2 separate regions of the Homo sapiens genome follow, and region 1 is linked to region 2. Evidence: fine-mapped expression QTL. A gene starts in region 2. The other region holds a variant in brackets. All regions are shown on one strand. Distances are from middle to middle. Region 1 has its middle 48 kb from the start of SHISAL1. Region 2 holds the start of SHISAL1 (shisa like 1).

What was found.
Region 1: its variant is fine-mapped to the expression of SHISAL1 in lung (TOPMed, PIP above 0.99).

What each region holds. Positions count from the first base shown.
Region 1 is chr22:44,359,772-44,362,674 of GRCh38, reverse strand. No RefSeq gene overlaps it. Among named protein-coding and RNA genes, the nearest start is that of SHISAL1, 48 kb to the right of the region's middle. The variant A/T (reference allele first, on the strand shown) is at 1,246.
Region 2 is chr22:44,311,697-44,314,599 of GRCh38, reverse strand. It overlaps SHISAL1 (shisa like 1), which reads left to right and starts at 1,649. Exons shown (of 5, transcript NM_001099294.2): 1 at 1,649-1,849. It overlaps LOC101927499 (a long non-coding RNA gene), which reads right to left and starts at 1,589. Exons shown (of 2, transcript XR_244444.3): 1 at 1,457-1,589; 2 at 1-179.

The sequences.
Region 1 (2,903 bases), 48 kb before region 2:
TTACAGAAAGCATTTCTTGGAGCCAGGCGCTGCTTGGAGGGTCATTCAATAGGCATCGGTCACCTTCTGCATTTCCCTGGGTGTAACTTTCAGACCAACTGGTGTAAGCTACTTTGGACTCCATTGAATGGACCCACCAGGGCTCACTCAACTGCTTGTTCCTCTATGTGGTTTTTCAACCAGGATGCTACGGCCGAAAGTATCTTTGGAACTAGAGCGTCCCTAAGAACAGTCCCTGGAGGCAGAAGCCGGGCCCTGGCTATAACTAACCCCTGGCTGTAACTAACCCCTGGCTGTAACTAACCCCTGGCTATAACTAACCCCTGGCTGTAACTAACCCCTGGCTATAACTAACCCCTGGCTGTAACTAACCCCTGGCTATAACTAACCCCTGGCTATAACTAACCCCTGGCTGTAACTAACCCCTGGCTATAACTAACCCCTGGCTGTAACTAACCCCTGGCTATAACTAACCCCTGGCTATAACTAACCCCTGGCTGTAACTAACTCCTGGCTGTAACTAACCCCTGGCTATAACTAACCCCTGGCTGTGCTCTGTCAGGGACGGTGGAAGGCATTCCTTTGAGAGAAACATTTGGGATCCTCTGGGTAGAGAATCGTCTTGGACAGGCTTGGGGCTGGGAGCCCTGCCTCCTCTAGAACTGAACCCCAGTAAAACTGCCAGCCAGGGGCCCACGGCGGGTACCCTGCAGGGGGACTCCAGCCTGAGAAGGTCTGCAGTGCGGCTTGTGTTTTGCTCGAGTTGCCATATACCAAGGCAGCACCGATGGACGGGGCAGCTTCAACAACAGACAGCCATCTTCTCACCACTCAGGAGGCCAAGGTCCCAGCTGGGTGGTTCCTCCTGAGGCCTCTCTTCCTTGGTGCGTAGATGCCACCTTCTCCCAGTGTCTTTGGCCACCTGATTGTCCCTCTGTGGGTGTCTGTGTCCCAGTCTCCTCTTCTTATAAGGAAACCAGTCCTACTGGATTAGGGCCCACCCCATTGACTGCATTCTAACTTAGTCACCTCTTTAAAGGCCCTGTCTCCAGGTACAGCCACATGTGGAGGTATGGGAGTTAGGATTTCAACACATGAATTTTGGGGGCCATAACCGAGCCCATAGCATGGGTGATTCATCAGAGTTCTAGGATTTAAAGAGCCTGAGTTATTCGAGACTCCAGGATCACTACCCCAGTAACTGCTGCGACAGCACCCTTACCCCTGCCCTTCTCAGGGGAAGCC[A/T]GGTCTAGGGGAGACAGTGACTTGTCCAGGCTCTCACAGTCAGGGCTGAGGCAGAATTGAACCCAGGCCTGGTTCATTCCAGAGCCTGACGGTGCCAGTCGGGAGCCCAGTGCTGGAAGGAGCTGGGAGGAGACAGAACTTGAGACCTATTTACCTTGGCACCCGCAGTGCCCGCTTGGGCTTGGCACACAACTGCTGTTCGGAAGTTGTTGGATGAATTCGACAATGACACATTTGGGCACAGTCCTTGCCCTGGGGGCACACACACCCCCCGATGAGAAGGCAGGCTCGCCGGCACACACCCGAACACCAAGATCACCGAGGCCAGAGCCAGGCCACTTTTCCTTTCTGGTTTGGGCCCTGCCAGCCTCCACACTGGGCCAGTGTGGAGCTGACCTTTCCACGTCTGCTCTGCAAAGCCCAAGCCAATTCCTAAGCCCTCGGCTGTCCCAGAACTGAGTCATGACGGAAGCTGGTGGGATTCCTGGGGGGACAGATCTAGCCCCCACACGTCCTTGCGTGCCTCCATCCATGCCAGCCGGCTCCAGCCCATACCACACCACCCAGAAATCCGCAGCTAGCACACGTTTCCACTGGAATGAAGCACTGCCCTGGCCCTGGCTCCGAATTCCTTGCCGCTCGCAGTCTCCAGCCGGCCGCCAGCTGTAACAGCCTGAGATGGCCTGCAGGGCAGGGAGCTGCAGTAGCAAAGAACATTTGTTTTCATCCGGTTGGAATTTTCTCTCCAAATTACACTGGCTGCCGTGGGCCTACTGTGCGAAGCTCCATTTACAGAAACCCTGGGCCACAGTCTGGGCATGACCTGCTCTCCCCAGAGGCGCCTTTCCCAGCTCGGCACCATGCTACCCAACATTCGCGTGCCCTGGGTTTCCAGGCCCCTTCCTGCCTCTGAGCCTTTGCCTACGCCGTTCTCAGTCTCAGAAATCCCTTCCCAGCCCACCCTGCTGCAGCCCCGGGTGGGGCAGGGCAAGGCCCACACTTGCGTCTCCATTGTACTCCTCACCGGCTGCCAGACTTAAGTGGGCTGCTTTGCCTCTCTGAGCCTCGCTTTCTTGGTTTCTTCATCTGTGGAATGAGAATAGGCTTGGGGGAAGCCTGTGTCCTGCAGGCAGTGAGGGGATTGGCAGGAGCCAAGGTGAGAGAGCTTTTGCAAAGCAGGGTAGCTTTTTTTTTGCGACGGAGTCTTCTTCTGTCGCCAGGCTGGGGTGCAGTGGCACGATCTCGGCTCACTGCAACCTCCTGGATTCAAGAGATTCTCCTGCCTCAGCTTCCCAAGTAGCTGGGACTACGGGCTTACACCACCATGCCCAGCTACTTTTTGTATTTTTAATAGAGATGGGGTTTCACCATGTTGGCCAGGATAGTCTCGATCTCTTGACCTTGTGATCCGCCCTCCTTGTCCCCCAAAAGTTCTGTGATTACAGGTGTGAGCCACTGTACCCGGCCAGCGGATAGCTTTGAAGGCTGCCTCAGCCAGCCTGCCCCTGGCCCTTTGCACACACGCCCATGCAGCCCCATGGGGAGGATGGCTCCTCTCCAGCTAGCCCCGCAGCATGCCATCATCGCTAACCCCATGGGCCGAGCTTGGGCCCATGAAATCCTCATGACTCTCTCTGGGGAGTAAGTGTCCTCACTAC
Region 2 (2,903 bases):
CCCTCACCCCGGTCTGCCAGGCAGGTTGGTCTTTGTTGTGCTTCCAACCTCTGTCAAAGGTGAACTTTTAAAATTCCTGCCTCGTAGGGTGGATCGCAAGGAGTAAATGTCATTGGCGGACCCATACTTTTCTATGTCATAGGTGTTCCAGATCTGGTGCACAGGAGGTCTGCTTTGAACTATAACAAAATCCACAGGGCAGTCCAGGCTCAGAGAGACAGAGAAACATGCCCAGGATCACACAGCTGAGAAGCGGCAAGGGACTTGAACCCGTGTTCAAACCCCAAGCTCAGAGCCCTTTTGTTTCTCTGCTGCTATGCTGAGCCCCAGACAAGAGGCAGGAGGAACTTTGTGTGCCTTGTTCCCTCTGCCAGGAACACTCCCCCACCCCCACCCCCGCCCCACCGCCCGACTCATCCTTCAGGTGTCCACACCAGACCCCCTGGTCTGAGTCCCCAGCCAGGCGACCCAGGACGAGTTACTGAAACTCTGTACCTCAGTTTCCGCATCTGTAAATTGGGGATAATCACAGCCCCTCCTAATCATGAAGATTAAATAAATACCACCCCCACTCCCGGCCCCTACCCCGTCAGGCTGCATCAGGCACTCTGGGCGCCCATAGCCCCCTGGTTTCCCATCGTGGCACCCATCGCTCTGGGCTGCCATTGTTGGGACCGTGGTTAGATGAGGGGCACCCAGACCAGTCTGAACTCGCTCTCTGTCCACCGAAAGGAATGGAAAAAGGAGGTTTATTTCTGGCCTGGCTCAGGATGGGCAGGCTTCCAGGGATGGGTGGGAGGCAGAGGAGGGCTGGCCTCCTTTATGGCTGCGTTTAAATGCCACCCAGAAGCCAGCCAAGGGCGCCGCCAAGGTACCACGATGCACGAAGGCCCAGGGGTGGGAGACGGCCATGGGCTGGGGGGGTGCCTGGCACCCAGGAAGTGTGGCTGCAGAGGCCAGCCAGGCCCCTGGGCTGTGTCCAGACAGTCATGGAAGCCACTGATGTGTTTCGAACAGTGGCAGGTGTGGGCATCCCCCGCCCTGTTCCTGCCCCATCCCCACCCCATTCCTACTGGCAGGGAGGACCCTCTGCTGCTGGGTGGGGACAGGCCAGGGGTAGGGGGGCAACAGCAGGAAGATCAGCCCAGCTTGGAGTCAGGCAGGTGCCACACACCCTCTGTGGGCTCTCGGGTCCCAGCTACCCTTCCTCCCCGGGCTGGTGTGGGGACCGTTTGTTTTACCCACACCCCTCCCCGGGCCATGCTGGCCAGAGGGGCTTGTGCAGTGGTGCCACTGACCTCCATTGCCCAACAGAGACTGAGGGCCACGGGAGGGAACCCACATGTATTGTGCCAAGCATCTGCTGAGGTGCGGACCTGGAGCCCGGTGCCCTGGGTCTAAGCCCCTGCTGCTTCTAGCTGTGGGATCTCACAGGGAGTGTCTCTAGTTTGCTCACCTGTAAAATGGGGCTCTTGCTGGTGCTCTGAGGATGCACAAGGCTGTAAGACCAGAGGCTGGAGTGCGTGGGGACTGCGGGAGCAGCCGCTGCCATCCTGGGCCTGGGAGGTGGCGGCCCTAGGCCCAGGCGGGAGCTGGACTCCTGCAGGGCTGACTCAGCGCCCTAGCCCCACTCCCCGCCCTGAGGAGCACACTGAATTCTTGTCAGCACACAGAGGCCAGCCTGCGCTGGAAAACACTCTTTTGCCTATACAAGGCTCGACCAAGTTGCTCTCCTTTTATTGGGGTTTAAGGTTGGTGGCAACCAGGAGCCGGGGAAGAGGCCAGCAGCTGCAGGGAGACCGCAGCCAGCGGAGGGGGCTTCTGATCCCTCAGTCACAGGGCTCGGCAGGTAAGGAGCAGCCTGTGGAGGTTTCCAGGTCCTCACTGTGCAGGGGCACCTCTGTTCCTTCACGCTGACCCTGGGGTCCCTGCCCTGGCTAAGCACTGGGTCTAAGGGAGAAGCCAGGCAAGGCTGCTAAGTGACTCCTAGTCACAGAAGAATGGGAGGGGCCGGGGTGACGGCTATGCCAGTGGGGCAAGATGGGGAGCAGGCTCTGATCTAGAGGGGTGGGAGCCCTGTGGGGGTGCACAGATGCTGGTGCTACTACCTACCTGCTGTGTGACCTTGAGCAAGTTGCTGACCGTCTCTGTGCCTCAGTGTCCTTGTGTCAAGAGCCTTGCATAGAGAGGGGTTGGAGAGAAGGCCAAAGGCTCGGGGGAGGGTCCGGCATGGCCTAGGGAGTGCTCTCAGGATGCCCTAGTCATGGCCTGGAGGGCATTTGGTTGGCTTCACGGGGGTGAGGTGGGTCTGTTCGACCCACTTCAGAGTCTGCAGTCCCAGTCCAGCATCACACCGGTACGAAATAAGTGAATAGATGAATGAATGAATGAATGAACGAACAAATGAATGCATTGGCCCCTCCGAATACGCCTTCAAGGCAGGTTTGTTGTCCCCATTTACAGATTGGGAAACTGAGGCTTAGGGCTTTGGCTTCTCTTCACTCCAGTGAGGAAGGGGTTCTGGGGACCAGGGAGGCTGAGGGAGCTGAAGAGAAACCCAGAGCCACCCCCACCCCGAGGCGAGCGCCATGCCTGTCTTTCCTCTTCCTGCCCTGACACTTTAAGTGATTCATTCTTCATGTGATATTTTTGTGTTTCTCCAGTGGGAAAAAAATGCCTCTGGGATTTCCAGGGGTTGTTTTATCTCCATGGTGCAACCAAATAACTCAGGAGGACAGAGAGAAACAAAGGGTTGTTGAGCTGAAGAAGGCCCATGATTGTCTCGGCCAAGCTCTCCCTTTAATAGGGGAGGAAACTGAGTCTGGCCTGAGCCCCTCGCCCTGTGACCCAGTGTGGCCCCCTGGAGGACAGTGGGGCATCTAGGGCCTTCAGCAGGGTTGGGG